3 separate regions of the Homo sapiens genome follow, and all the other regions are linked to region 1. The links come from fine-mapping of genetic effects on gene expression. A gene starts in region 1. Each other region holds a variant in brackets. All regions are shown on one strand. Distances are from middle to middle. Region 1 holds the start of GIMAP1 (GTPase, IMAP family member 1). Region 2 overlaps GIMAP2 (GTPase, IMAP family member 2). Region 3 overlaps LOC124901774 (a long non-coding RNA gene).

The links.
Region 2: its variant is fine-mapped to the expression of GIMAP1 in whole blood (TOPMed, PIP above 0.99).
Region 3: its variant is fine-mapped to the expression of GIMAP1 in whole blood (INTERVAL, PIP above 0.99).

What each region holds. Positions count from the first base shown.
Region 1 is chr7:150,709,022-150,719,902 of GRCh38, reverse strand. GIMAP1 (GTPase, IMAP family member 1) reads right to left here and starts at 3,290. Exons shown (of 3, transcript NM_130759.4): 1 at 3,213-3,290; 2 at 813-861. The coding sequence starts at 855. GIMAP1-GIMAP5 (GIMAP1-GIMAP5 readthrough) reads right to left here and starts at 3,290. Exons shown (of 5, transcript NM_001303630.2): 1 at 3,213-3,290; 2 at 813-861. The coding sequence starts at 830.
Region 2 is chr7:150,693,040-150,703,920 of GRCh38, reverse strand. It overlaps GIMAP2 (GTPase, IMAP family member 2), which reads right to left. Exons shown (of 3, transcript NM_015660.3): 3 at 10,280-10,881. The coding sequence ends at 10,621. Among named protein-coding and RNA genes, the nearest start is that of GIMAP2, 13 kb to the right of the region's middle. The variant G/A (reference allele first, on the strand shown) is at 8,266.
Region 3 is chr7:150,646,118-150,656,998 of GRCh38, reverse strand. LOC124901774 (a long non-coding RNA gene) reads left to right here. Exons shown (of 4, transcript XR_007060589.1): 4 at 8,108-8,695. Among named protein-coding and RNA genes, the nearest start is that of GIMAP6, 19 kb to the right of the region's middle. The variant C/TGTGC (reference allele first, on the strand shown) is at 6,142.

The DNA.
Region 1 (10,881 bases):
TTGTCTGCCTGCACCAGTAGATGCTCCAACTACAGTTGATTATCATAGAAATGCTTCTTTATCAGTCCAGCCCAATAGTTCATCTGACATTTCTGGTCATCCACACACATGCAGACATATTTATTTCATATTTGAAAATTTCGATGGACTCTGAAATATTCTCCCAGAGACCATCCCCAGAGACAGGCAGTGGGGGCAATACTGCCTGGTAGTGAAGAGCTGTGTGGAGTCCCAGATACCCTGGTTTGAATCACAGCCCCACCACGTGCTGGTTGTGTAACCTTGGGGAAGCTGCATAATCTAAGTATTAAGCCTCTTCGGCAAAAGTGGGAGCGATAATAGGGGCCTGTTTCTCAGAGGCCTGTTGAGGGGGTGAAATAAGCCCTCTTTCCTTCTTCTCTCTTTCTCTCCCTCTTTCTCTCCTTCCTCTCTTATCTCTCTCTTAAACTGGCTGCCTAAAAAGAATATATGTTTTAACCCTCTATCCTTGTTCTCTAAACATTCTACCTCACAAATCATGTTCACTGTAGTGCATGATTTAATCCCCTCTGCACTTCTTCTGCGGTGATCGGAGTAGGTTTATTATCCTTATTTTATACTGTGGAACCAAGGGAGCAGGCTAGTCACAGAACTTAACTTCTCACAGCAGAGATCCAGCTAAAATGCAGATCTCAGGGCTGGTGCTGTTTCATCCCAGAGTTGAGACACCTCTGGAACTTATCTCTGTTCAGTCTTGAGGAAGCCCCATTCTCCTTATTACCCTAAGTTCAAGCCTAGGGGGGCAAGTATGAGGTGTAGAGATATGGTCTTACCATAGACATTTTCTTCATCTGTCGCCATCTTCCTTCCTCCCATGCTTACCTGGAAGAGTCCCAAACACAATTTGTTAATTCATTTATTTATTCCTCAAATAGGCATAACCACAAATAGGCATAACCACCTACAGGGTGTCAGGCAAAGTCCAAAGAGCTGGTGACAGCACAGTGAAAAGACATGGTTTTTGCTTGCAAGGATCTAAAAATCTAGGTGTATGTCTTGGCAGAAGGGCACGTGGCTAGAGAGAAGACAGGTAAATTTCGTCAAATATAATACATTGTGCTAATCCTTCTTTAAGTAAGGATTATATCGGAACTTGAGAGAATGGCCTTGGAAGGGCCAACACCCTGCCCTTGAGTTGGTAGGATGCTGTGAGAACATTGGGTGAGGCTAGATTTGTCTTTTCAGGAACTCCAAAAGCAAAAAGCAGAGGGTCGGTTATAACATTTACTCAATGCCAATGGGCTTTAGGTATTACTTTTCCCTGGGTGATTCTATATCACTGACATAAGCTAGAGATATCAGGGGATTCAGCAGCTGGGGGAAGATTAGGTAAACCCTCAGAACCAGAAAATGTGCCCAGTGACTTAGGCACCCACCTTCAAGTGGCTGACCTGGGAAGAAAGAAGAAAATTGGGATTTTTCTTTTGGAAATTGAACAGATCTCCCAAGTAGATCTGGAGGGCCCCTAACTCTGTTTTCTTAAAATCAAATAATTTGGTTTGTTTAGAGATGTCTAAATACGATATCTGTGCTGGAGAGACTTGAACACTTCCCTTCAACTCCTGAAGTTGCTTCCCCTCCAAATGTGATTATGCTGAAATCTAACATTGTGTAATACAGCTAAACCCTCTGTGATCCAGTTTGCCTAATCACACAAGCTCCTGAACACAAATTCACTTCTCCCTGCATCTATGTCTCCAGCCTCATTCCCAGACAATACCCCACTCGGTCAGCTACTTCACAATCAGCAGATTTCAGGGCCTTTCCAACCCACTCGGCTTCCCCTCCTAGGACTATTGATCCTCCCCGACCATCTGTCTGTGCCTCACCATCCATGTCAAACTTGTTGTGTCTTGCACCCTGGTCACTTGGATACCTGTGTTCTCTCCCATTGGCACCACACATGAAGGAGGGGCAGAGAGAGAGGCTGGCTGAGTAACTTGTCTTTGATTGAAGGACTTGGAGAACAGATTTGCCTCATATTAAATCTAGAGCTGTTTCTGTTTCTGCAGGAACTCTACTGGCCCTCCCCAAAGCCTTCAATAAAATTCACTCCATGGGCCTTATGTGATTAATTATTTTGCATGTAGGAATGAACAGATGATCATAAATGACATCAAAGCAGAAATGAAGAAACAGTTGCAAGATTCAGAGAAAAGAATTTAGATGAAGCAAAATGTCCTTGTCAACCAAGAAAATGAGAATTTCTTTTTCCAGTGCTGCAGAATTCTGGATAGGCCTTTGGAATTTTCCATAGTTTAGAAGAGGGGTTGAAATGATTTTAAATAGTTTTTTTTTTTAAAGGAAAGTAAGACCCAGCTGAACTCTGAGGTGACAAATGGCCCTTAATCATTGAGGAATGTACACTTATAGAATCCTGTATTCCTAACACTTTAAGAGACCGCAAAGTTTATTGAGTTCTTCACCGCTCAAATGTGCTGCTTCTCAGAATTACTTGAATGTTCTTTAAAAATGTACATCTCTTGGATCCATCCTGAGATTCTGATTCATGAATTAAATGTTTCTGATGTCCACAGCTCAGAACTTGGACATCAGTCATTTTTGCAACCCCCTTTATTGTACAGATGGGAATTTGAGGTGTCCCCGTGGCTGGAGCAGGAGAAGCTTGAATTAAGGGAGCAGATGTTTAAGGGGCCATGCAGGGAAAGGGGTTGAAGACCAAGATATTAATCTCAGATGTCTCCTCAGGGGCCCCTTCTGTGGACAGTGAGGAGGAGAGTTCAAATGTACCCAGTCTTGTCACGTCGTAACTCACTCCGAGGTTAGATGGCTTATGGGGCCATAGAAATATCTTTTGCCTTTGCTCAATAGGGAGCTTGAGGAATGTTTAATGCCTTTCAAACTGTATTTTATTCCTGGAGGTGGTTCCAGCACACTCTTTTCTTACTTTGTTAAGGGAATGTGGGAGGAGACAGATTTCACTCCCCACCAAGAACGTGTGTGCTCCAGAGCTGGAGAAGATGATCCTAAAATTTCCTCTGAACTTTGCCTACTTAAAAACCTGGAAGTATGTCCTTGATTGTTCCAGATCTTGCTCGCCTGCATGATGCCTTGTAGAATGCAAGTGTTCAGGCAGTAAACACTCTAGGAATCATGTTCTTTCTGGTTCTCAGAGCACCCCCAGCCCCCGCCACTCCCAGGCTCAGGCTCACCTTTCCTGGTGACAGGCTCTGAAGTTGGCCACAAGAAGCCCCAACCTGCTGCTTTCCCTTCGGCTGTGAGTGCAGAAGGCTGTTTCCTCTCGGCACACGGAGGAAATCACTCAGACTTCAGAAATCAGGAAGCTCAGGGTGGGCCCCATGGTTATGGTTTAAAGAGACAGAAACATTTCCCATTGAGCTGTGGGTTGGCAATACTTCTCCTACCGACTCTACTTTCTGCTGTGACTGAGGTTATGTGTCTCCAGCAGGGCCTCATGATGTCAAATATCTTGCCATGCTCTAAGAAGGGAGGGATGTTGTAGTCTCTGAGGCCTGACTGTACTTCTAAAATTGATTACTGAGCTAATCTTCAGTTGCCTTTGCCCTATAGGGACATTTCCCCATATAAAATAGGCCCAGAGAGTCTCCTGCCCCGGAACAAATAACGTAATAGCTGTTCTCATCATCTGTCCATTAATTAGACATTCATGTGGCCAGTGCCAGCCCCAGATCCAGTCTGCCAGAAAAACCTGAAGGCAAAGTCTTATCATTCTCTGAGAGAGGAGGGCTTTCCCAGCTATTGAAGGACTTGAGGGTGAACTGGTATGTTGAGGATGAACACCTTCGCACTATCTTCAATTTAGCCTTATTAGGAGGCTTTAGTCTAGTCGTCTATGTTGGTATCACCAGTTCTAGTTATTCTATCTTCTCTCAAGAGCATCATGAGGTCAGCAAAAAAGCGAATCACTGGGTGGTAAGAAGGCTACAGAGGAGCAGGCTGCATATCTGGTTAGGTCATTAACCAGCTATAGGACCTCACCTAACTCATTTAAACTTTCTGGAGTTGGCTTTCTGGAGTATATGGGGAAGACAATAACCCGAGTCTTACCCTACTGGATAGGATCTGCTTTTTAACCTCTTTCATGCCAGACCACTTTTTTTCTGGTAGGGAAGAGACCCAGCTTTTACTGTTTCCCATCTTTTTGGGGGCACAGAGTCTCCTGGATATCTGACATGTCCACTGTTTCCATTCATCATTGCTGAAACAGGGAGCCTGTCATTCTCCCAGTAGACCGGCAGGGCTGGGGCTATTGTGAGGCAGGTGGGGCATCTAGAGCACACAGCTTAAGGAGGCACTCACTCTCAGGTCACCCAAGTGCAGATCTTGTAGGTGGGTGACCCTGGGAGTGAGTGTTTTCTTAAGAGTGAGGTGCCTAGGGCTTCTCACTAGCCTCATCCTAGCCCAAGCCACATAGATCAGCTTTGAATAAGTCTTTGATACTTGACGTGTACCTTTCATAAAGACGCTTTCAGAGCCTCTTCAACAGCTCCGGGCCATTTATTGTTTCCATGCATGTGTATGATGTCTTACTTCAGCCACTCATAACTCTCTGTCAGAGGGTTTATCTGACTACAAAAGTATATGTAGGTAATGCATGCAGCAGCCTGAAGTTGTCAGAGCTGATATCCTAGGAGCAGATTTCAATCAATGTCAGTTAGGACTTATGGATAAACACCACAACTTATCAAGTTGTCCACCACGTGAGACAACTCTGTGATGTACTGCATACAAATTGCTGAGTCCCCAGCAGGACTGAGACCCAGTTGTCTGCAGTGGGAACATCCTCATCACCGTATACAGTGGTAATGTGCTCATTAATGCAACTTGCATTGGCTACTATCCCTTCCCGTCCCACATTTCCACTTTCCTACTGGTGCTTTCTGGGATCTTCTTCCTATTGAAAAGTAACCGTTTCTGTCTTTATTTTCCTCTACATTTCTATTAGCTCTTGATTATGTCTCACTGTCTCTGGGCTTTGTTGCCTATTATTATTCATTGATACTTACTATCAGTTGTGGAAACCCAGGTGAAGCTCAGACCCTGACTACACTTGAGTCTCAGAATTATATCTAGAACTCCGGCTTCCTTTTGTACCCTGTATTAATGCTTCCTTCCTCTCTTTCCAGTCTTTGCATGTTCATTGTTTTCTTCCGTATCCTTATAAATGCAGTGAAGAAAATGTATTAGTCCGTCCTCACGCTGCTTTAAAGAAATACCCGAGATTGGGTAATTTATAAAGAAAAGAGATTTAATTGGCTCACGGTTCCACAGCCTGTACAGGGAGCATGATGCTGGCATCTCCTTGGCTTCTGGGGAGGCCTCAGGAAACTTACAATCATGGCAGAAGCCAGAGGGGAAGCACACACATCTCATGGCTGGAGTAGGAGCAAGAGAGAATGGGAAGGAGCTGCATACTTAAAAATTTTTATTTAATGTACTTTACATTCTGGGATACATGTGCAGAACATGCAGGTTTGTTACATAGGTATACATTTGCCATGGTGGTCTGCTGCACCCATCAACCTGTCATCTAGGTTTTAAGGTATTTGTCCCAATGCTCTCCCTCCACTTGCCTCCCCAACCCCCGACAGGCCCCCATGTGTGATGTTCCCCTCCCTGTGTCCATGTGTTCTCATTGTTCAACTCCCACTTATGAGTGAGAACATGCAGTGTTCGGTTTTCTGTTCCTGTGTTAGTTTCCTGAGAATGATGGTTTCCAGCTTCATCCATGTCCCTACAAAGGACATGAACTCATACTTTTTATGGCTGCATAGTATTCCATGGTATATATGGGCCACACTTTCTTTATCCAGTCTATCACTGATGGGCATTTGGGTTGGTTCCAAGTCTTTGCTATTGTGAACAGTGCTGTAATAAACATATATATGCATGTGTCTTTATAGCAGAATAATTTATAATCCTTTGGGTATATACCCAGTAATGGGATTGCTGGGTCAAATGGTATTTCTGGTTTTAGATCCTTGAGGAATTGCCACACTGTTTTCCACAATGGTTGAACTACTTTACACTCCCACCAACAGTGTAAAAGCATTCCTATTTCTCCACATCCTCTCCAGCATCTGTTTCCTGACTTTTTAATGATCGCCACTCTAACTGGTGTGAGACGGTATCTCATTGTGGTTTTGATTTGCATTTCTCTAATGACCAGTGATGATGAGGTTTTTTTTATATGTTTGTCACATAAATGTCTTCTTTTGAGAAGTGTCTGTTCATATCCTTCACCCAATTTTTGATAGGGTTGTTTGTTTTTTTTCTTGTAAATTTGTTTAAGTTCTTTGTAGATTCTGGATATTAGACTTTGTCACATGGATAGATTGCAAAAATTTTCTCCCATTCTGTAGGTTGTCTGTTCACTCTGATAATAGTTTCTTTTGCTGTGCAGAAGCTCTTTAGTTTAATTAGATCCCATTTGTCAGTTTTGGCTTTTCTTGCAATTGCTTTTGGTGTTTTAGTCATGAAGTCTTTACCATGCCTATGTCTTGAAGGGTATTGCCTAGGTTTTCTTCTACGGTTTTTATGGCTTTAGGTTTGACATTTAAGTCTTTAATACATCTTGAGTTATTTTTTGTATAAGGCGTAAGGTGTGAGGAAGGGGTCCAGTTTCAGTTTTCTGCATATGGCTAGCCAGTTTTCCCAGCGCCACTTGTTAAATAGGGAATCCTTTCCCCATTGCTTGTTTTGGTCAGATTTGTTGGAGATCAGATGGTTGTATATGTGTAGTGTTATTTCTGAGGCCTCTGTTTTGTTCCATTGGTCTATATATCTGTTTTGGTACCAGTACCATGCTGTTTTGGTTACTGTAGCCTTGTAGTATAGTTTGAAGTCAGGTAGTGTGATGCCACCAGCTTTGATCTTGATCTTTTTGCTTAGGATTGTCTTGGCTATACAGTCTCTTCTTTGGTTCTATATGAAATTTAAAGTAGTTTTTTCTTGTTCTGTGAAGAAAGTCAATGGTAGCTTGATGGGAATAGCATTGAATCTATGAATTACTTTGGGCAGTATGGCCATTTTCACAATGTTGATTCTTCCTATCCATGAGCATGGAATGTTTTTCCATTTGTTTATGTCCTCTCTTATTTCCTTGAGCAGTGGTTTATAGTTCTCCTTGAAGAGGTTGTTCACATCCCTTGTAAGCTGTATTCCTAGGTATTTAATATACTTTGTAGCAATTGTGAATGGGAATTCACTCATGATTTGGCTCTCTGTTTGTCTGTTATTGGTGTATAGGAATGCTTGTGATTTTTGCACATTGATTTTGTATCCTGAGACTTTGCTGAAGTTACTCATGAGCTTAAGGAGTTTTAGGGCTGAGACAATGGGGTTTTCTAAATATACAATCATGTCACCTGCAAACAGAGACAATTTGACTTCCTCACTTCCTATTTGTATATCCTTTGTTTCTTTCTCTTGCCTGATTGCCTTGGCCAGAACTTCCAATACTATGTTGAATAGGAGTGGTGAGAGAGGGCATCTTTGTCTTGTGCCAGTTTTCAAAGGGAGTGCTTCCAGCTTTTGCACAGTCAGTATGATATTGGCTATAGGTTTGTCATAAATAGCTCATTATTATTATTATTTTGTTTATTGTTATTATACTTTAAGTTTTAGGGTACATGTGCACAATGTGCAGGTTAGTTACATATGTATACATGTGCCATGCTGGTGCGCTGCACCCACTAACTCGTCATCTAGCATTAGGTATATCTCCCAACGCTATCTCTCCCCACTCCCCCCACCCCACAACAGTCCCCAGAGTGTGATGTTCCCCTTACTGTGTCCATGTGTTCTCATTGTTCAATTCCCACCTATGAGTGAGAATATGCGGTGTTTGGTTTTTTGTTCTTGCGATAGTTTACTGAGAATGATGATTTCCAATTTCATCCATGTCCCTACAAAGGACATGAACTCATCATTTTTTATGGCTGCATAGTATTCCATGGTGTATATGTGCCACATTTTCTTAATCCAGTCTATTGTTGTTGGACATTTGGGTTGGTTCCAAGTCTTTGCTATTGTGAATAATGCCGCAATAAACATACGTGTACATGTGTCTTTATAGCAGCATGATTTATAGTCCTTTGGGTATATACCCAGTAATGGGATGGCTGGGTCAAATGGTATTTCTAGTTCTAGATCCCTGAGGAATCACCACACTGACTTCCACAATGGTTGAACTAGTTTACAGTCCCACCAACAGTGTAAAAGTGTTCCTATTTCTCCACATCCTCTCCAGCACCTGTTGTTTCCTGACTTTTTAATGATCGCCATTGTAACTGGTGTGAGATGGTATCTCATTGTGGTTTTGATTTGCATTTCTCTGATGGCCAGTGATGATGAGCATTTTTTCATGTGTTTTTTGGCTGCATAAATGCCTTCTTTTGAGAAGTGTCTGTTCATATCCTTCGCCCACTTTTTGACGGGGTTGTTTGTTTTTTTCTTGTAAATTTGTTTGAGTTCATTGTGGATTCTGGATATTAGCCCTTTGTCAGATGAGTAGGTTGCAAAAATTTTCTCCCATTCTGTAGGTTGCCTGTTCACTCTGATGGTAGTTTCTTTTGCTGTGCAGAAGCTCTTTAGTTTAATTAGATCCCATTTGTCAATTTTGGCTTTTGTTGCCATTGCTTTTGGTGTTTTAGACATGAAGTCCTTGCCCATGCCTATGTCCTGAATGGTAAAGCCTAGGTTTTCTTCTAGGGTTTTTATGGTTTTAGGTCTAATGTTTAAGTCTTTAATCCATCTTGAATTGATTTTTGTATAAGGTGTAAGGAAGGGATCCAGTTTCAGCTTTCTACATATGTCTTGCCAGTTTTCCCAGCACCATTTATTAAATAGGGAATCCTTTCCCCATTGCTTGTTTTTCTCAGGTTTGTCAAAGATCAGATGGTTGTAGATAAGCGGCGTTATTTCTGAGGGCTCTGTTCTGTTCCATTGATCTATATCTCTGTTTTGGTACCGGTACCATGCTGTTTTGGTTACTGTAGCCTTGTAGTATAGTTTGAAGTCAGGTAGTGTGATGCCTCCAGCTTAGTTCTTTTGGCTTAGGATTGACTTGGCAATGCGGGCTCTTTTTTGGTTCCATATGACCTTTGAAGTAGTTTTTTCCAATTCTGTGAAGAAAGTCATTGGTAGCTTGATGGGGATGGCATTGAATCTGTAAATTACCTTGGGCAGTATGGCCATTTTCACGATATTGATTCTTCCTACCCATGAGCATGGAATGTTCTTCCATTTGTTTGTGTCCTCTTTTATTTCATTGAGCAGTGGTTTGTAGTTCTCCTTGAAGAGGTCCTTCACATCCCTTGTAAGTCGGATTCCTAGGTATTTTATTCTCTTGGAAGCAATTGTGAATGGGAGTTCACTCATGATTTGGCTCTCTGTTTGTCTGTTGTTGGTGTATAAGAATGCTTGTGATTTTTGTACATTGATTTTGTATCCTGAGACTTTGCTGAAGTTGCTTATCAGCTTAAGGAGATTTTGGGCTGAGACAATGGGGTTTTCTAGATATACAATCATGTCGTCTGCAAACAGGGACAATTTGACTTCCTCTTTTCCTAATTGAGTACCCTTTATTTCCTTCTCCTGCCTAATTGCCCTGGCCAGAACTTCCAACACTATGTTGAATAGGAGTGGTGAGAGAGGGCATCCCTGTCTTGTGCCAGTTTTCAAAGGGAATGCTTCCAGTTTTTGTCCATTCAGTATGATATTGGCTGTGGGTTTGTCATAGATAGCTCTTATTATTTTGAAATACGTCCCATCAATACGTAATTTATTGAGAGTTTTTAGCATGAAGGTTGTTGAATTTTGTCAAAGGCCTTTTCTGCATCTATTGAGATAACCATGTGGTTTTTGTCTTTGGTTCTGTTTATATGCTGGATTACATTTATTGATTTGCATATATTGAACCAGCCTTGCATCCCAGGGATGAAGCCCACTTGATCATGGTGGAGAAGGTTTTTGATGTGCTGCTGGATTCGGTTTGCCAGTATTTTATTGAGGATTTTTGCATCAAAGTTCATCGAGGATATTGGTCTAAAATTCTCTTTTTTGGTTGTGTCTCTGCCCGGCTTTGGTATCAGGATGATGCTGGCCTCATAAAATGAGTTAGGGAGGATTCCCTCTTTTTCTGTTGATTGGAATAGTTTCAGAAGGAATGGTACCAGTTCCTCCTTGTACCTCTGGTAGAATTCAGCTGTGAATCCATCTGGTCCTGGACTCTTTTTGGTTGGTAAGCTATTGATTATTGCCACAATTTCAGAGCCTGCTATTGGTCTATTCAGAGATTCAACTTCTTCCTGGTTTAGTCTTGGGAGAGTGTATGTGTTGAGGAATTTATCCATTTCTTCTAGATTTTCTAGTTTATTTGCGTAGAGGTGTTTGTAGTATTCTCTGATGGTAGTTTGTGTTTCTGTGGAATCAGTGGTGATATCCCCTTTATCATTTTTTATTGCGTCTATTTGATTCTTCTCTCTTTTTTTATTAGTCTTGATAGCGGTTTATCAATTTTGTTGATCCTTTCAAAAAACCAGCTCCTGGATTCATTAATTTTTTGAAGAGTTTTTTGTGTCTCTATTTCCTTCAGTTCCACTCTGATTTTAGTTATTTCTTGCCTTCTGCTAGCTTTTGAATGTGTTTGCTCTTGCTTCTCTAGTTCTTTTAATTGTGATGTTAGGGTGTCAATTTTGGATCTTTCCTGCTTTCTCTTGTGGGCATTTAGTGCTATAAATTTCCCTCTACACACTGCTTTGAATGCGTCCCAGAGATTCTGGTATGTTGTGTCTTTGTTCTCGTTGGTTTCAAAGAATATCTTTATTTCTGCCTTCA
Region 2 (10,881 bases), 16 kb after region 1:
CTATTTTGAGCTGATAATAACTTCATTTGCATACAATAACTGCTTTGATCCCTCTTCCCTCCAAATTATATTCTGTTGATGTAACAATGTACATCTATTTGTATTATGTGTCTATTAATATCATTTATAGACATTTTAATGTTTTTTCCTTTTAGCTTTTATAGTAGAATTAAAAGTGATTTACCACCTCCATTATAGTAATACAATATTCTATTTTTGTCTATATTTACCTTTACCAGTGAGCTTCATTCCTTCTTATGCACGTGTGTTGCTGTTTAGTACTCTTTTAATTAAACTTGAAGAGCTCTCTTTAGCATTTCTTGTAAGGTAGGTCTAGCAGTAATAAACTCCCCGAGCTTTTGTTTTTCTGAGAAAGTCTTAATCTCTTTTTCATTTTTTTAAGGTTAGATTTGCTTGACACAGTATTCTTGATTGGCAGTTCCCCACTCCCAGCACTCTGAGTATATCATTCCATGCACTTCTTACCTGCAAGGTTACTGCTGAAAAATCTACTAATAGTCTTATGAAGATTCCCTTGTATGTAGTAGGTTGCTTTTCTCTTTCTGATTTCAAAATTCTCTGTCTTTAACTTCTGACAATTTAATTATAATGGGTCTTTTTGGATTCACTTTATTTAGTATCCTTTGGGCTTCCTGGATCTGGATTTCTATTTACTCCCCCAGGCTTGGGATGTTTTTAGCTATTATCTCTTGGAATATATTAGGTTGGTGCAAGAGTAATTGCGTTTTTTTGCAGATGTATTGCAAAAACTGCAATTACTCTTTTACCAACTTAATACTTTCTTTCACTTTCTTTTTTCTCTTCTTTTGGGTCTCTAATAATGTATACATTGGTCGGCTTTATGTGTCCCATAAGTCCCTTAAGGTATCTTCACTCTTTCATTCTTATTTCTTTTTGCTCCTCTGATTGGATGATTTCCAATGGCCTGTCTTCAAGTTCACTGATGCTTTCTTCTGCTTGGTTTAGTCTGCTGCTGAACTTCTCTGTTGAATTTTTCAGTTCAGGCATTGTATTCTTCGGCTGTATCACTTCTGTTTGGTATGTTTAAACATTTTCTATCTGTGTGTTGAAAGTCTCACTTTGTTCATGCCTTTCTCTCCTGACCTCAGTGAATATTTTTAAGACCATTATTTTGAATTCCCTGCTGGGTAAATGACTTGTCACTATTTTATTAAGTTGACTTCTGGAGTTTTATCTTTTTTTGTTTTGTTTTGTTTTTTGTTTTGTTGTTGTTGTTGTTGTTTGAAACGTATTTTCCTGTTTCTTCATTTTCCTTGATTCTGTGTTGGTTTCTGTGCATTAGATAAAACAGCTACCTCTCCAGTCTTGTGTAGGAATAAACCACACAAATCAGTATGGCCAGTGATTCTGGGTGCCTCCCAAATCTTTGTGCTTGTCCAAACCATTGCCTATGTTCTTCATGGGCCCCAGAAGATTAATGTGTTCCATATCCCATTAGTGCCCTGAGACAATTCAAAAAGAAGTGAATACTTTGAGAAGAAGCTGGAAAATTTATGGTGCTAGATGTGTGGTCCAGTTTTTTTTTTCTCTCTTCAGGGAGAAGCTTGGAACTGAAGTGTATTTGCCCTTGTTCTGGAATAAGGCATGGAGACTATCTGTGTCAGATTCCTGCACTCTCGTTCAGACTGTACACTCTTTCAACCCTTTGGTCTGCTCTTTGTTTCCCTCAGGGGCCTAATGAATATTGATTCCCATTGGCTGTCAGAGACAGGTGAGTCAGATGGAGGCTTGGTACTATCTCTAGAGCAAGCTGAGAAGAGGATTTGTGGGAAGTGCCTATAGTTCCCTTCAGGCTCCCAGAGAAGTACTTATTGCCTGCCCCATCAGCTCCCAGATGCAGGCTAATTAAAGGCTTGATCCTGGGAAGCAGCAGTGAAAGTTAAGATGTTAGGTTTGCAGTTGAACCCCTTCCAGGGAGAAACTGGAAACTGGGTGTTTTGCCTTCTTGTTCTGTGCCGAGCCAGGGGAAGTAGCCACTACAGGTGCTCCTATTCCCATTTAAAATCAAATCAATTCTTTGTTCTCTGTGGTCTGGGGGGACTTGTAAATGCTAAGTCATGTCAGTTCCCAGAGATAAGTGATTTAGGAGCTAGTCTCTCAAGTGGGAGCTGTACAAGTTGGGGTGCTCAATGTGTAGACAAGCCCCTTCCAGGCAGAAGCTGGAGGCTTGGTTTTACTGCTGGAGTAATATGGTGGGGGGGGGGGGGAAGATTGCTAATTAGCTGCATTTAAAATAGATTATTTTGGATTGTCTGGGTACCCCCAGTGTAATCACAATGGCCCTTAAAAGTGGAGAGAGATGCGGAAAAGAAGTTCATAGTGATTTGATGTGAGAAGGACTCAATCCATTGTCATTGGCTTTGAAGGTGGAACTGGGCCATAAGCCAAGGAATGCAGGTGATCTCTAGAAGCTGCAAAAGGCAAGGAAATTGATTCTCCAGTACAGCCTCCAGAAAAGAACTCATCCTCACCAACAACTTGAGACTCATGTTGAACCTCTAAGTTCCAAAACTGTAAGATAATAAATTTTTGTTGTTTTAAGCTACTAAATTTATGGTAACAGCAGCAACAGGAAACTAAGCATATTGGACTTGAAAATGTGTATTCTGCTGTTATTAAGTGGAATGTTCTATAAATGTCAATTAGGTCAAATTGGTTGACAATGTTGGCACACTGAATAATGCCCCCAAAGATATCCATGTCTTATTGCCCAGGACATACCTGTGGATGTTACTTTATATGTCAAAAAGGGACATTGCAGATGTAATTGAGTTAAGGATCTTGAGATAAAGAGATTATTTTTGATTGTCCAGATGGACTCTAAATATAAATTTTAAGAGAAGCAGAGGGAAGGCACAGAAAAAGAGGGCAATGTGAGGACTGAAGCAAGATGCTGTGCTGCTGGCTTTGAAGATGAAGGAAGGGGCCATGAGCAGCTCTAAAAGCTGCAAAAGGCAAAAAAATATTTCCCTTAGAGATTTTGGAGAAGTAGGGCACTACCATCACCTTGATTTCAGCCCCATGAAACTGATTTTGGACTGTTGATTTCCAGAACTGTGAGAGAATAAATGGCTTGTATTAAGACACGAAGCTTGTAGGAATTTCTTGCAGCAGCCATAGGAAACTAATACAATGGTGTTCAAATCTTCTCTATCTTTACTGATTTTTTTGTCTACTTGTACTATTATTATTATTTTTCCATACCTATCTTCTATACTATTAATTATTGAGAGGGGCATTAAAATCTCTGGCCATATTTGTGAGTTTTTCTTTTTATTATTGCAATTCTGTCAATTTTTGCTTCATGTGTTTTGGAATTCTGTTATTACACACATAAAAGTTTTAGATTGTTATGTCCTCTTGATGAATTGATGGCTTTATCATTGTAGAATGTCCTTCTTCATTCCTGATAATATTTTTTCCTTTGAAGTCTACTTTGTCTGATATTAATATTGTCATTCCAAGTATCTTTTGATTAGTGTCATTATAGAATATCTTTTTTCATCCTTTTCTGCTTAAGCCAGCTGTCTTTATATTTAGTGCAAGATTCATGTAGGCAAAATATAGATAAGCTTTGCTTTTTAAATCCACTCTGACAATCACTGCCTTTTAACTGAGGATATTCAGACCATGTACTCTAATATTTAGATTATTGACTTCTTTAGATTTAAATCTATCATCTTACTATTTTTCAAATTTGTCGCATTTGTTCTTTGTTTCCCTTTTTACTGCCTTCATTTATATTAATTGAACTTTTAAAAAATTCCATTTTTCCTCTCTCTGTTGGCTTATTATCTATAACTCTTTGTTATTTTATTGGTTGACTTAGAGTTTATAGTATAGAGCTTTTGCTTGCCTCAGTTCACCTTGAAGTGATATCATATCACTTTACATAGAGCATAAACATTTTATAATAGTATCTTTCCATTTTTCCTCTCCTGATTTTTTGTCCTATTGTTCTCACAGGTTTTACTTTTGCATATATTGCAAAACTCAATCTATATTGTTATTATTTTTGTTTAAGCAGTCAATTATATTTTAAAGGTATTTAATTAATAAGAAAAATACCCTATATATTTACTCATGTGGTTACCATTTTTGATGATCTTAATTCCTTTGAAAAGATCAGTATTTTTCTCTGATATCATTCTCCTTTTTTAACTTTTTTTTTTTTTTTTGTAGTTCAGGTCTGCTGGCAACAAACTGAGCTACTGAATGTCTGGAAAAGCTTTTATTTTGCCTTCATTTTTGAAAGGTAATTTTGAAAAATAATTTTAATTTGACAGTTTTTCTTCTAATACAGTCATGTGTCACATAATGATGTTTTGGTCAACAACAGACCACATATGCGATGTTGGTCCCATAAGAGTATAGCACCCTATTTTTACTGTATTTTTTTTCTGTGTTTAGTATGTTTAGATACACAAATACTTACCAGTGTGTTACAGTTGCCTACAGTATTCACTACAGTAGCATGCTCTACAGGTTTGTAGTCTAGGAGCAATAGGCCATATCATACAGCCTAGGTGTGTAGTAGGCTGTACCATTTAGGTTTGTGTAAGTACACTCTACAATGTTCACAGAATGATGAAGTAGCTTAATGGTGCACTTCTCAGAATATATCCCCATTGTTAAGTGACACATGATTGTACTTTGTAAATGTTGTTTCACTGTCTTCTCTGTCACATTAATTCTTCAGAAAAATCTGTTGTCATCCTTACCTTTGTTTCTCTGGACATAACATATGTTTTTTTTCCTCTGGCTGCTTTAAGAATTGTCCTTTTATCATTCATTTTGATCAACCTGATTATCATGTTTCTTCTTGTGGATGTCTTATTTGCTTGGGGTTCACTGAACTTCTTGGGTTCTTGTGCTTACAGTTTTCATAAAATTTGGAAAATTTTTGGCCATTATTGATTCCAATATTTTTTCTGTCCTGACCCCCTTTTATTTTTAGTGAATCCAGTTACATATACATTCCACTTGAGGTTGTCCCAGAGCTCACTGAAGCTCTGTTCTTTGAAAGTGACTATTCTTTTTTTCTTTTGTGTTTTCTATGTTGGGACATTTCTATTGCTGTGTCTTCAAGTTCATTAATCTTCTCTCTTTTCTAAATTTTTAGGTTCAGGGGTAAATATGCAGGTTTGTTATATAGGTAAACTTGTGTCACAAGGGTTTGTTGTACAGATTGTTTTGTCACTCAGATACTAAGCCTAGTACCCAATAGTTGTTTTTTCTGTTCCTTTTCCTCCTTCCATCCTGCACCCTCAAATAGGCCCCAGTGTCTGTTGTTCTCCTCTTTGTGTCCATATGTTCTTATCATTTAGCTCCCACATGAGAACATGTACTATTTGGTTTTCTGTTCCTGCATTAGTTTGTTAAGGATAATGGCCTCCGGTTCCATTAATGTTCCTGCAAAGGACATGATCTCATTCTTTTTTATGGCTGTGTAGTATTCCATAGTGTATATGTACATTTTCTTTATCCAGTCTAGCATTGATGGGCATTTAGGTTGATTCCATGTTTTTGCTATTGTGAATAGTGCTGCAATGAACATACATATGCATGTGTGTCTTTATGATAGAATAATTTATATTCCTTTGAGGATATACCCAGTAATGGGATTGCTGGGTTGAATGGTAGTTCTGGTTTTAGATCTTTGAGGAATTGCCACACTGCTTTCCACAATGGTTGAACTAATTTACACTCTCACCAACAGTGTATCAGTGTTCCCTTTTCTCAGCAACCTTGCCAGCATTTGTTATTTTTTGACTTTTTAGTAATAGCCATTTGGACTGATGTGCGATAGTATCTCATTGTAGTTTATTTTGTATTTCTCTAATTATCAGTGATATTGAGCTTTTTTAAAATATGCTTGCTGGCCACATGTATGTCTTGTTTTGAAAAGTGGCTATTCATGTCCTTTGCCCACTTTTTAATGGGGTTGCTTTTTTTTCTTATAAATTTGCTTGAGTTTCTTACAGATGCTGGATATTAAACCTTTGTCAGGTGCATAATTTGTAAAAATTTTCTCCCATTCTGTAGGTTGTCTGTTTACTCTGTTGATAGTTTCTTTTGCTGTGCAGAAGCTCTTTAATTGGATTCTATTTGTCAGTTTTTGCTTTTGCTGCAATTGCCTTTGGCATCTTCATCATGAAATTTTTGCCAGTTCGTATGCCCAGAATAATATTGTCTAGGTTGTTTTCCAGGGTTTATATAGTTTTTGGGTTTTACATTTAAGTCTTTAATTCATCTTGAGTTGATTTTTGTATATGGTATAAGGAAGGGGTTCAGCTTCAATCTTCTGCATATGGCTAGCCTGGTTAGCCAGTTATCCCAGCACCATTTATTGAATAGGGAGTCCTTTCCCCATTGTTTATTTTTGGCAGATGGTTGTAGTTGGTGTGGCCTTATTTTTGGCCTCTCTATTCTGTTCCATTGGTTATATGTCTGTTTTTGTACCAGTACCATGCTATTTTGCTTACTGTAGCTCTGTAGTATAGTTTGAAGTTACGTAGCATGATGCCTCCAGCTTTGTTCTTTTTGCTTAGGATCACCTTGGCTATTAAGGCTGTTTTGATTCCATATGAATTTTAAAATAGTTTTCTTTCTAGTTCTGTGAAGAATGTCATTGGTAGTTTGATACGAATAAGATTGAATTTATAAATTACATTGGGCAGTATGGTCATTTTAACAATATTGATTCTTCTTATTCATGAGCATAGAATGTTATTTCATTTGTTTGTGTCATCTCTGACTTCTTTAAGCAGTGTTTTGTAGTTCTCATTATAGAGATCTTTCGCCTCCCTAGTTAGCTGTGTTCCTAAATATTTATTCTTTTTGAGGCAGTTGTGAATGAGATTGCATTCCTGATTTAGCTTTCGGCTTGACTGTTGTTGTTATATAGGAATGCTAGTGACTTTTGTACATTGATTTTGTATCCTGAGGCTTTGCTGAAGTTCTTTATCAGCCGAAGGAGCTTTTGGGCTGAGACTATGGGATTTTTTAGATATAGGCTCATGTTGTCTGCAAACAAGGATAGTGTAAATTTCTCTCTTCCCATTTGGAAGAGAGAAACAAACTCTCTTTTGTTACTCTCTTTTATTTCTCTCTCTTATCTGATTGCTCTGGCCAGGACTTTCAATACTATGTTGAATGGAAGTGGTGAAAGAGGACATCCTTGTCTTGTGTCAGTTTTCAAGGGGAATACTTTCAGGTTTTGTCCATTCAGTATAATGTTGGCTGTGGGTTTGTCATAGATAGCTCTTATTATTTTGAAGGTATGTTTCTTCAATACCTGGTTTATTGAGAGTTTTTAACATGAAGGGATTTTTGAATTTGATTGAAAGCCTTTTCTGCATCTATTTAGATGATCATAAGTTCACTAATCTTTTCTTTTTCAGCCTAATATTTTGCTAACCCTATTCAATGTACTTCTTATATCTTTTATGGTAGTTTTTATCTCTAGAGGTTAAATTTGGATCTTTTTAATGTCTTCCACCTTACTACTTAAACTGTTTTAACATATAGCACACAGTTGTAATAACTGTGTTAATGTTTTTGGCTGATAATTCTAACACTTTTGTCAGTCTGGGCTGGTATTTATTCATTGATTTATCTCTTCATATTTTCTTGCTAATTTTCATGTTTGGTAATTTTTTACTGGATGCCAGACATCTGGTTTTGACCTTCTTATGTGCTGAATATTTTCTTACTTCTGTAAATATTCTTGAGCTTTCTTCTGGGATGCATTTAAGTTACTTGGAAACAGTTTGATCCTTCAGGTCTTGCTTTTAATATTTGGTAGGCATACTTGATAAGTTGTCAGTCTAGAACCAATTATTTCCCACTAGTGAGGCAAGGCTCTTCTGGGAAATCTACCCAATGCCCCACAAATCACAGGCTTTTTTAGTTTTTATGGTCCGTGGTGAGTGCAGGACACTGTTTCCTCTAATCTTGTTGACTGGTTCTTTTTGTCACCTCAGGGGGTTTCACCACATGCATGTGGTGATCAGTATTCAATTGAAGACTCAAGGGGGACTCTCTGCAGGTGTCTAGTTTTCTCTCCATATAGCTCTCTCCTCTCTCAGACTCTGTTATGTGAACTCTTAGCCACCTTTGTATCTCCAGAATCCCAACTCTATCTTCTCAAATCAGGGAGTCTGCCAGGCTCCACCTGGTTTCCATAAATGTTAGTTTTTTAATGCTGCATAACAAATTACC[G/A]CGAACTTAGCAACTTAAAACAGCATAGATTTATTATCTCAAGATTAGTGTGGGCAGGGAGTGTAGACATAGCTTAACTGTATGTTCTCTGCTTTAGGGTTTCACCAGCCTGTAATGCTAGCTTAAGTCTAATCAGAGGCTTGATGGGAAAGATCTGAACCCTCAGGATGTTGACACAATTTGTTTCTTTGTGGCTGTGACCAAGGATTTTGACTTTTTCCTGTATGTTGGCTAGAGGCCACCTGCAGTTCTCTGCCATGTTAGCCCTGTTCATAGGCAATTCACAAAATGGAAATTTGCTCCTTGAAGGCCAGGAGGAAAGGAAAAGCAAGTCTTTGTGCAGCTATATAAATCACTGGAGTGACATTCTGTCACCTATGCCATGTTCTATTGGTTAGAAATAGGTCTCAGATCCCACCTACAATCAAGGGGAGGAGTTCTACAAAGGTGTGAACACCAGGGGCCAGGAATCATTTGAAGTCAACATAGGGTCTGTCTGTTATACCCTCTCTGTGTTGTGACCTGAAAACTCTCTCAAGACAGGAGGCTGGGAAAATTGAAACTCTTGTCTTGTTTTCCAATTCTCAGTGATTACTCTCTTTTGTTACCTGATTTTCAGTGTCTTCAGCACTGTCATTTTATATCATTTGTCCATTTTTTGATTGTTTCACATGGGGCAGGAAGGGGATATCTGGTCCTTGTTATGCTATTTTGATCTGACAAGGAAGTCTGAACTCTGTTTTTTAAATTCAGTTTTTCTGTCTGTTGTCAGGATATGGAAGTGTTGTAGCTTTTAAAAAGTTGATATTATATTGAGATTCATTGCTCTACTTTTATTACCTTTAATTATCTATCTAAAATTATTATTTTTCTTTCTCATCAGTACTCATACCTTTTATTTTTATTTCTTTTTTTGAAGTTATTAGATAGATAAGACCTGTGGTAAAATGCTAAATAGAAGCAGTGATAGTCTGCATCTTTTGTTGCTCCAAATTTTAATACAAATCCCTGCAATGTTTGAGAGAAACTCTCTTTTTTCATCTGTCCACTTTTAGATGTTTTCCAGTATCTTTACATAGATTTAAAATTTTTAAAAGTTTTTATAACTGCTACCCATGGAGGAGTTTATGTAATGAATACACTTCTCCAACACTAATAGGAGTATTCATCATTAACTTTAAAAAAATCAATTATAATTTGATTTATTAAAATTTCATGAGTTTTTTCAAATACAGCTCATCATCTTTGGTAGTTTTTTGTTCCTTTTTAATTTGGGCTGTATGTGTGTGATATTCTAAGAAATATTTTATAGCTACTTAGTACACTGTAACTAGTACTGTGATATTAAAGTTTCTGAGTCTACTTCTGTTGGGTTTTTTAATCTTTTTGATCTTGTTCATAGGGACATGATTTGGGTTCACTTTACTGAATTAATTCCATCTGAATACTCAAGTAAATTGGAGATGTTTTCCTCTAGAGAAGATTTGTGTTTGCTTCTACTGGCTGTCAATAATTCAACTAATTTTGGATAACTTTAGTCTCCTGGAAGGTCCTAAATTAATACAGAACACTCCAAATCAGCTCTCCAATTTTACTGACAGCCCAAGATTGATTTCTTCATCTTAGGATTGGTACCGGCATTTGTCTATCGGTCACCTCTGCCTTCCTTGTTCATGTATTCCTCATGGGCCTCAACTCCAGTTTGTGCTCCTCATTTAAAAAAAAATATTGTTTGCTCTACCTTTGGAATTTTCTTTATTTTTCTGGTGAACTCATCAATTATAAAAATTCTGTTTCTTTTAATAAATGTAGCCTCTATTTGCATCTAGCAAGATGATGCTTCAGAATATCCAGTCCAATTTGCTATCTTTTCTGACATTTGTCTTTACTTATGTTTCAGTGATAAATCTGTAGGACGTCAGGGCTAAAATCTGGCTAACATGAGTCATGTCCACTTACCATTTTCTAAGGAGAAAACTATAGAAGAGAATTAACAACATATGATCAAAGGAACTTTACAGTTTATGTAATATTATTTTATTGCCATTTTCATTATATTCAGTAGAAATAGTAGTACTAGAAAGAAGAAAATGAGATTTTAGGAACATAAAACTGGCTTTAGATATTTGAAAATGAGAGGAATTTTATGTTTACAGATTTCAAAAGGCTTTGATATTATATTTCAATGCAAACAGTAACTTATCGTATGATTTGGTTCATTAATAATTGGAGTGATGTTCAGATTTAAACATTTCATAGAATCTCAAATATGACTTCAGGTACCACATTTTACAGGGAAATTACTGTGATTCACCCACTAAATGATAGTGAGTAAATAATAACTGGGATCTGTAACTATAACCTAGGAGTCTTGCGTTCTAGTCTAATAACTGTTCTCAAAAATATCATTAACTTTTTGGGTATAATAAACAGCAAACTGCAGAATAAATTGCACATACTAAAGAGTAAGCAACAAAACAAATTGCACATGCTGTGCAGTATGCAAAGCCACAGAATTATCAATCTGAGAAACAACTGAATACAAAATAAAACACACAGTTGTGTTTTGATTAAGGCTCCTTTTAGGCAGTTTGCTTCAGCCAAGGCTGTGTAACT
Region 3 (10,881 bases), 63 kb after region 1:
TTAAGCAGATCTGACAAACCTGCTCACTGTGTGCATTCAACAACCCAGGAAACAAAATGCCTCCTCTAATAGGACCAGTCCAGAGAAGGAGAACTTACCCAGGGGAAGACTGGCAACTGGACTTTACCCACATGCCAGGTTGTAAAGGATACAAGTTTTTGTTAGTACGAATAGACACTTTTACTAGCTGTGTTGAAGCTTACCCTACCAGAATAGAGAAGGCTAATGAGGTTATAAAGTTTCTCTTGAAGGAAATATTCCCCCAGTTTGGGTTACCCCAAAGCCTCCAAAGTGATCACAGCCTTCTTTTGTCTCCCAAATAACTCAAGGGTTATTTATAACTCCCAAATAACTCTCACATAACTAAGGCTCTTGGAATCAAATACTATTTACATTCAGCATGGAGGCCTTAATCCTCCAAGAAAGTAGAAAAGGCTAATCAAACTCTAAAACGGGCATTAGCTAAGCTACATCAGGAAACAACAGAAACTTGGATCAGCTTACTGCCCATATCCCTCTTAAGAATTTGTAATTCCCCAAGAGCAAAAATTAATATGAGCCCATATGAAATATTATATGGGAGGCCATTTTAAACTAATGATCTAATGATTGATCCAGAAGCAGCCGGTTTAGTAAAATACTTAGTTAACCTGGGACAATTTCAGCAGGCTTTACAAAAAGTTTGGAACTCAAAGGTTCCCTGTACCAGGAACTAACCAGCGCACCAAGGTCAGGCCAGGAGATAAGGTACTTGTTAAAACATGGAACGAAGGGTCACCTGCTCAACAATTACAACCCAAATGGAAAGGACTGTTTTCCGTTGTGTTGGCCACGCCTTCCACAGTCAAAGCACTAGGATCAGATTGTTGGATACATCTTTCCAGGGTTAAGTCTGCAATATCTGAAGCCCTGGACCTGGAACTGGAGGCTCCCTCCAGCCACTATACCTGTGAACCTGTGGAAGACCTGAAGTACCTGTTTAAAAGAAAGCCAAAAGATAAGTAAATACCTACCAATTTTCCCTGGTGTAAAATGTTAATTGATTTTTGCTCCCTCACTTACAGATGCTTGTGCAAGGGTTTCAGTCAGTTTTGGAACAAAATCCAAAATCGAGCCAAAGATACTCAACTGTCACAACTGGATCAAGCTAGCTGCACCTTTTATGACCAAGTACAAGTTTCATTGCAGCCCACGGACACTGACCTAACTACCTAGGGACAAAGAGCCAGGATTCTCAATAGGCAGGGACAATGCCCGTGACCAGCAGGAAGCAGCTACAGAAAGCTGATCTTCAGTGCCTCTGCCTCCCATAAAGATTCAAGGGGATCATGTCTCTCAGCAGGAAATGAGACAGGAGAATAGGGAATTAAGGTAACCAAGGGTTAAGGCATAAGCAAAAAAACAGCAGGTGCCGACAGTTCTAGGCAAGATTAGGCAGCATAAAGGCCACATCCTTGCTCCTGTGATAACAAGACATAAGTTTCCACTTTATTCTCTGATTGGTCACAGGCCAATCCTTCATAAGGTGTAACCAATTGGAGACCTCTAAAGGGCACCCAGGTGGGTGTGGTGGTATGCGGCCTGTAATCCCAGCTACTCAGGAGGCTGAGGCAGGAGCATCACTTGAACTTGGGAGGCAGAAGTTGCAGTGAGCCGAGATTGCACCACTGCACTCCAGCCTTGGCAATAGACAAGACTCAGTCATAAATAAATAAATGGCACCTAGAGGTGTTGCCAAGTTATTTTGGCTATATAAAAACATTGGGGAGCATTGTAACAAGGAGATTCTTGTGCTGGTTGCTGGAGCTCACTCCCACCCTGTAAACTGTCTTCAACAAATCTGTGCTTTCATTACTTCCTTGCTTTGTCTTTCATTGCTTCATTCTTTTGTTACTTTGTGCATTTTGTTCAATTCTTTGTTCAACACTTCAAGAACCTGGACAACTCTATCAGTAACAATAGGATTGAACAAAGTAGTATGTATATTGCAAATAATGTTGCACAAACAAGTTACAAATAAGAATAGAACTTACTGCTTTTTAAAAGCATGTAGATAGAGAGATGCAGAAATCAACATAAGTATGTGGATTTGCATATGTAAATTTGCACGCATGGCTTTCCCAGCTCTGTCTGCTAAGGCGAGCTTAGAAAAAGTGACACCTTCTAGCAATGAGCACATCAAGTGTCCAAATCTTTGTTTATTACCCAATAACCAGAACCAAAAGTCCTTGGAAAAGGGGTAGATTCCAGAGAATGTTTCTCATGTATAGATTTGGCAAAACTCCTAAAGTTTGACAGCCTACTTTCTTGACAAAAGTATAGGGAAGACAGAAACTCTCAGACACTGCTGAAGGGAAAGCAAAAGAGTTCAGCCCTATGGGGGTAAATAAAGAAGGATTTACCCTTTGACACACATTATCAAATTTAAGAATGTGCCCAAAAATACACTGGCAAAAGTATAGAAAGAACTATGCAAAAATCTCCTTGGAAGAGTACTATTTAAAAAAGCAAAGACAAAAACTGATCCAAATTACCATGAATAAGAGACTGGCGGGATGAACTTAGATACATCTATGCAATGAAGTACTTCTTCATTGTAAAAAGTAGTGAAGACTATCTCTATAGAGAGTTGTAAAATCATCTCCAGGATATATTGCTAAGTATTTTATTCAATTATGAGTTGAATAAAATAATGTAAGGGATACTATCATTTGTTTAGTAAGGGGCACAAGATACACTTTTGCATATATATTTATTATATTTATATGTTATATATTTTCATATAGATACATAAATATAAGGATGACAATAGAAAGATATACTTTGAAAACAAGCAAGGAAAGAAAGAAGGAAGGGAAAGAAGAAAAAGAGAAAAAGAGAGGTAGAAGAAAGGAAGAAATAAAAGAAGAAAGCAAGAAAGAGTAACAAGGAAGGAAAAAGTTACCTGTGTACAGAGGGAGGGAATAGAAATGAGAGCAGAAGCTGGACTTCTTTGAATTGACTGTTATGAAGATTTGATTTTAGAATGATAAAAATATTTGAGTTGAAGTGTGACTCTACCACACTCACTCTTAACCATGCACTCTACAGCCTGTCCTTGGTTACTCTCAAACCATGATTGTACATTTTCATTGACATCATGTGATAAATAGGTCAGGGGAGGGCAAAGGAAATGATCCACACTTTGCTCAGAAGGTGAGCTGGGAGCAAGCCTTGGATTGGAGAGTCCATGGGGAGGGCTCCGCACTTCTCTGTGGACTTTTCCCTCTATCCCATACTGAAAAGCCAAAGATGAGAGAGAGACAGAAAAAATCATTTTTTTTTTTTGAGATGGAGTCTCACACTGGCATCCGGGCTGGAGTGCAGTAGCATGATCTCGGCTCACTGCAACCTCCCCCTCCCAGGTTCAAGCGATTCTCCTGCTTCAGCCTCCCAAGTAGCTGGGATTACAGGCACCCGCCATGGCGTCCAGCTAATTTTTTTGTATTTTTAGTAGAGACGGGGTTTCATTACGTTGGTCAGGCTGGTCTCAAACTCCTGACCTTGTGATCCACTCGCCTCAGCCTCCCAAAGTGCTGGGATTACAGGCATGAGCCACCGCGCCTGGCCTAGAAAAATCATTTTAAAACTTTCCTAAATGGGAGACAATTAGATCATCATAGCAGATGGCAGGCAGGACCAGATTGCAGTTCTGGACAGAGCAGCTTGTGGAAGCTCACATTGTGAATTTTAGCGGCAGATCAACTGCAAGAACAAACCAGCAACCCTGAGAGGACCCTCCAAAGGAAGCAGTCTGCTCCTGCAGGACCTGGGAGATACCCCAAATACTGTGAGTGCCCCAACTGCAGAAGTGGGAAAGGGAGACCCTCCTCTCCCAAACACACAACAAAAAAAAAAGTCCAGGACCAGATAGATTCACAGTAGAATTCTACCACACATTCAAAGAAGAATTGGTACCAATCCTTTTGATGCTGTTCTACAAGATAGAGGAAGAAGGAACCCTCCCTAATTCATTTTATGAAGCCAGCATCACAGTAATACCAAAACCAGGAAAGGACATAATCAAAAAAGAAAACTACAGACTGATATCCTTGATGAACATTGATGCTAAAATCCTTAACAAAATACTAGCTAACTGAATCCAACATATCAAAAAATATGATCGAGTAGGTTTCATACCAGGGGTACAGGGATGGTTTAACATATGCAAGTCAATAAATGTGTTATACCACATAAACAGAATTAAAAACAAAAATCACATGATCATCTCAATAGATGTGGAGAAAGCATTTGACAAAATCCAGCATCCTTTTATGATTAAAACTCTCATCAAAATCAGCATAAAAGGACCATACCTTAATGTAATAAAAGCCATCTATGACAAACCCATAGCCAACATAATACTGAATAGGGAAAAGCTGAAAGCATTCTCCCTGAGAACTAGAACCAGACAAGGATGCCCACTCTCACTGCTCCTCTTCAACATAGTACTAGAAGTCCTAGCCAGAGCAATCAGACAAGAGAAAGAAATAAAGGGCATCCAATCAGTAAAGAGAAAGTAAAATTGTCACTATTTGCTGATGATATGATTGTTTACCTTGAATACCCTAAGGACTCCTCCAGAAATCTCCTAGAACTGATAAAAGAATTCAGCAAAGTTCTGGATATAAAATTAATGTACATAAATCAGTAGCTCTTCTATACACCAACAGCAACCAAGCAGAGAATCAAATCAAGAACTCAATATTTTTTACAATAGCTGCAAAAAATAAATAAAATAAAATAAAATAAAATAAAATAAAATACTTAGGAATATACCTAACCAAGGAGCTGAAACACCTCTACAAGGAAAACTACAAAACACGTCTTAAAGAAATCATAGGTGACACTAATGGAAACACATCCCATGCTCATGGATGGGTAGAATCAATATTGTGAAAATGACCATACTGCCAAAAGCCATCTACAAAGTCAGTGCAATCCCCATCAAAATACCACCATCATTCTTCACAAGATTAGAAAAAACAATTCTAAACTTCATAAGGAACCAAAAAGGAGCCCACATAGCCAAAGCATGACTAAGCAAAAAGAACAAATCTGAATGCATCACGCTACCTAATTTCGAACCATAAAACAGTGTGATACTGTTTTATAGGCACATAGACCAATGGAACAGAATAGAGAATCCAGAAATAAACCCAAATACTTATAGCCAACTGATCTTTGACAAAGCAAACAAAAACATAAAGTGGGGGAAAGGACACCTTTTTCAACAAATGTTGCTGGGGTAATTGGCAGCCACGTGTAGGAGAATGAAACTGGATCCTCATCTCTCACCTTATAGAAAAATCAACTCAAGATGGAGTAAGAACTTAAGCCTAAGACCTGAAACTACAAAAATTCTAGAAGATAACATTGGAAAAGCCCTTTTAGACATTGGTTTAGGCAAGGATTTCATGACCAAAAGCAAATGCAATAAAAACAAAGATAAATAACTGGGAGCTAATTAAACTAAAGAGCTTTTGCATGGCAAAAGGAACAGTAAGCAGAGTAAATAGACAACCCACAGAGTGGGAGAAAATCTACACAACTGTCAAAGGACTAATATTAAGAATCTACAACAAACTCAAACAAATCGGTAAGAAAAAAAATCCCATCTAAAAGTGCGCTAAGGACATGAACAGACAATTCTCAAAAGAAGATATACAAATGGCCAACAAACATATGAAAAAATGCTCAACATCACTAATGATCAGGGAAATGCAAATCAAAACCACTATGCAATACCACCTTACTCCTGCAAGAATGGCCATAATCCAACAATCAAAAAACAGTAGATGTTGGCGTGGACGCAGTGAACAGGGAACACTTCTACACTGCTGGTGGGAATGTAAACTAATACAGCCACCATGGAAAACAGTGTTGAGATTCCTTAAAGAAATAAAAGTAGAACTACCATTTGATCCAGGAATCTCACTACTGGATATCTACCCAGAGGAAAAGAAGTCATTATTCAAAAAAGATACTTGCACATGCATGTTTATAATAGCCCAATTCACAGTAGCAAAATCATGGAACCAATCCAAATGCCCATTAATCAAAGAGTGGATAAACTGTAGTGTGTGTGTGTGTGTGTGTGCG[C/TGTGC]GCGCGTGTGTGTGTATGATGGAATACTATGCAGCCATAAAAAGAATGAATTAACACCATTTTCAGTAACCTGGATGAGATTCGAGACTATTATTCTAAGCCAAGTAATTCAGGAATGGAAAACCAAATATCATATGTTCTCCCTGATATGTGGGAGCTAAGCTATGAGGACACAAAGGCATAAGAATGATACAATAGACTTTGGGGACTTGGGGGGAAATGTGGGAGGGGGCGAGGGATAAAACACTACAAATATGGTGCAGTATATACTACTCAGGTGATGGGTATACCAAAATCTCACAAATCACCACAAAAGAACTTACTCATGTAACCAAATACCACCTGCACCCCAATAACTTATGGAAAAAGGTCACATTAAAAAAAAAAAAAACTTCCCTAAGTGGTTCTTGGAAGACCCAGATGACCTCCAGCTAAGAGGAGGGCTGAGAAGTGAAACAAGCGTGTGCTTCAGACATGAGCTGACCTAACTGTAGCCAGACCCACCATTTCTGGAAGATTCCATAAGCTTCTTGAGACTTAGTTCCCTCTGCTATGAAAAGGGTCAATAAAACCAGTTGTGCAGGGTTGTCATGTGGTTTTCATGGAATAATTTCTAAAAGTCTTACACATTGCCTAGAGCACAGCAGCCACTCAAGATGCCACGGGATATATAAGAGAAGCACGGACTAAAAAATCGTTCTGTGTCTTACCTAGAACCACACTGCAACTTAGGGGTTCAGCTGGAATTACAAATTATAGTCGTTTTTTAGAGCAGCTAATCTTCTCCCTAAGCTCCCTATCCTCCACCCCATCTCTTATACTATTAGGAGCACAGCCTCCTTCTTGGGAGGTGTTGGAATATATCTAGACATGGAGTTAGTAGACCAAGTTCTAGTCTTTTCTTGTCAACCTAGAGGACACTTGGGATGTCCCCAATTCACTGGGCTTTGATTCTTTTTCAGTAATTAAAGCAATTAGAGTAGGTTTAGATTTGGTGTCTCTAAATTGCCTGCAAGTTCTGAAGACCTGTCCTGGGGACACTAATATCCTGTTAAAGGTAAATGACAGTTTTCAGACAACAGCATCACAACAGACACCAGATAGAAAGTGCCTGTTAAGCAAAGGCCTGTCCTGTGCAATATGAGCTGGAGTGACATTCTGCTTGAACTCTCAGCTTCCCCTCCCACAGCCTCTACACTCACATGCAGGCTGCCCCCCATGACCCCCACTCACACACAGCTCCCTGCTCTCCTTCCCAGCCAGCCTCACCTGCTTTTGCAGAATGGATGAGCTCACAAGTCTCTCCAGGGAAGTGTGAACTACCATTTTTACTTCCAGCGAAACCTCTGACCCCGCTCAACTTCTGACCATGGAAGCTCCAAAGGAGTGGAGCCAATGAAGAAATATTTCACATTTAAACAGAAAAAGAATGTAGTATTTCACAATTTGGTAGGTGCTTCAGTTTTGCCTGAGGGAAGTGTTTTTCTCCATGCACCTGCTGGACTCCCGAGAAACCCAGTCACAGCCATTGCTTTGGATGGTAGTGTGACTCTGAAGACCTAGTGAAATAGCCCAAATTTTGCTCAATGTTGTATTCTCTATGGTCAGCCACTGAGATCCACTTCCTTCCCCTCCATTTCAGGACTGAAGTCCCGAGTCTCCCTGCTGACTTGACGGGAGTGTTGAGAGCTGACAGCTGCTGGCTGAGCCCTGCCCCCACCCCTAAGACACCACCTCATGATTGGTCTCAGCTAAAAAGTCACTTCCTCCAAGGTCATCTCCCATTCCCAGGGCCACTCACACCTGATGACTTGTCAGTGTAGAGGTATAGAGGCCTGGCCTCTGGCCCCAATTTTGGGTAGCTGTGCAGGGCCATCTTAGTCTCTGGGCTCCTGGAGGGGTTGACTCACTAGGCCTTTGTTGTCATCACAGCCTGACTTCCTCTGCTTCCTTCACTCGCCCACAGGCTCTTCCCAAAAATACTCCTAAATGAATTTCATGCCTGCACAACTTTATCTCAGCATCTGCTGAACTGTGACAGCAACATCCAGAAAGCACAGTCTAATCCTCACTGAATGAGGGGAAGTTGAAGGGTGAGTGTGCGAGAGATTTGGGTGGGTACACAGAGCCAAACTATATCACATGAGTTATACCTAATCAGTTATTATTTGTATATTAGTAAATTATTATAGTTTGTATTTAGTTGCACCCATCAACTTACTAAATTCTCTTATTGTTAGAGTAGTTTATCACTTCCTGGGCTGTGGTAATGGATTGCAGAGCATGGGTGCTTGCTCTTGTGACTGTGGCCTATGAGGTTATTTTTGTTTTTGGAGTCCTGGCACACTTACAGGTAATTTCCACCTGTGCCTCAGAACCAAGTTTTCGCTCCAGTTTAGAAGAGAACATTTTCAGAGGCTTGTAAAAAACTGACATTGAATTAAATTTACAGGTAATGTAGAAATAATTTACTGACTTTTTTATGATAACACATGTGGAACAAAAGGCTCATATAAGTTTATAGCTTAGGGAATTGTCATATTTGTTTGCTGTAAGCTTTTATATGTATCCATATTATAATATGTAGGTATAGATTATGCCTTCTCATAACTGTATTTGATTTTATTGGGTGAATATAGCCCAATTCATTTGGTGTCTATTGTAGATGGACATTTGCATTGCTTTCAGTTTTTTTATGAGTACACTGCTATAAATATTATAGGCATTATCTTTTGTTGAACACCTATTTCTCTTGGGTATGCACCCAAGAGTAGAATGGCTGAATATTGGCTATGTGTAACCTTCAGCTTTCATAGATACTACCAGATAATTTTTTTTTGAGACAGTCTCATTCTGTTGCCCAGGCTGGAGTGCAGGGGTGCGATCTTGGCTCACTACAACCTCTGCCTCCTAGGTTCAAGTAATTCTCCTGCCTCAGCTTCCCGAGTAGCTGGGATTACAGATGTGTGCCACCACGCCTGGCTAATTTTTGTATTTTTAGTAGAAGGGGGATTTCACCATGTTGGCCAGGCTGGTCTTGAACTCCTGACCTCAAATGATCCACCCACCTTGGCCTCCCAAAGTGCTGGGATTATAGGTGTAAGCCACCATGCCCAGCCCAGATAATTTTCCAAAGTGGTTTTACCAATGCACATTTTCATCAAGCCTTCTATGAGAGTTCTTTTTGCTGCATATCCTCAGAAGTTTCCTATTTTTTTTTTTCTTTTTTGAGATGAGGTTTCACTCTTGTTGCTCAGGCTTGAGTGCAGTGGCACAATCTCGGCTCACGTTCCAGTGATTCTCCTGTCTCAGCCTCCCAAATAGCTGGAATTACAGGTGCCCACCCCCATGCCCGGCTTGTTTTTTGTGTTTTTATTAGAGACAAGGTTTTATCATGTTGGGCAGGCCGGCCTCAAACTCCTGACCTCAGGTGATTCACCCACCTCTGCCTCCCAAAGTGTTGGGATTACAGGCATGAGCCACTATGCCCAGCCCCTCAGATGTTTCTTAAAGTTTTCTTTACACAGAGGTTACACATTTTAGAAGTTTGTCCTAGGTATTTTATCTTTTTGTTATTTTTAAAAATGTGATGTATTAGTCCATTCTTGCACTGCTATAAAGAAATATCTGAAACTGGATAATTTATAAAGAAAAGAGGTTTAATTGGCTCATGGTTCTGTGGGCTATACTGGCTTCTGCTTCTGAGGGGGGGCCTCAGGAAACTTACAATCATGGTGGAAAGTGAAGGGGAAGCAGGCACATATTCACATGGCCAGCAGAAGAGAGAGAGAGTGAAAGGAGAGGTGCTACACACTTTCAAACAACCAGATCTCATGAGAACTCTATCACGAGAACAGCAAGGTGGAAGTCTTCCCCCATGATTCAGTCACCTCCCACCAGACCCCTCCTCCAACACTGGGGATTACAATTCAACATGAGATTTCAGTGGAGACACAGAGCCAAACCATATCACATGTGTTATACCTAATCAGTTTTTATTTGTAACTTAGTAAATTACTATAGTTTGTATTTAGTTTGCACCTACCAACTTACCAAATTCTCCTATTTTTAAGTAGTTCATCAGTTTATTCTCTTGATTTTCACAGATATGAAATCATATTTTCTGCAAATAATTTTATATCTAGCTTTACAATTTTTATGCATGCAATTACTTTCTGTTTTATCGTTGTAGCATTCACTTGCTCTAGAAAACTGTAGGGGTAATAAGGAACAATGACATGTTTTCCTTTTACCTGACGTTAGGTTGAAGGGTTGTCAAATTCCCGACTAAGCATGATGCTGGATTTGATGTTGAGGTAGACACAGCTATCTATTTTGTATTATAAGGAATTATCTTTAAAAATCAAATACTGGTTGAACTTTATCAACTGCCTTCTCAGAATATAAGTAGAAGATCAAATTAGTTTTCTTTTTGAATATATTACCACGTGAAATTATTTATGAATATCCTAATATTAACCTATCTTTGCATTCCTACTTGCTAATGCAAGGTTGTTCTTTGAAAGAACTGTTTGCTGATATTTATGTACCATGTTAATAAATATTTATAAGTGAGCCAACTCCTTGCTAATTAAGAGCAGTTCATATAATTATTTGGTTGTTTTACCCTTTGCTGACCCACGTTCTCAGGACTCCACCTTCACATAAAATATTTACCAAGATATTTTTATTAGATGACACACTTTCTGAGAAACATCTTGGTTCCAGCTCCTCAGAGTA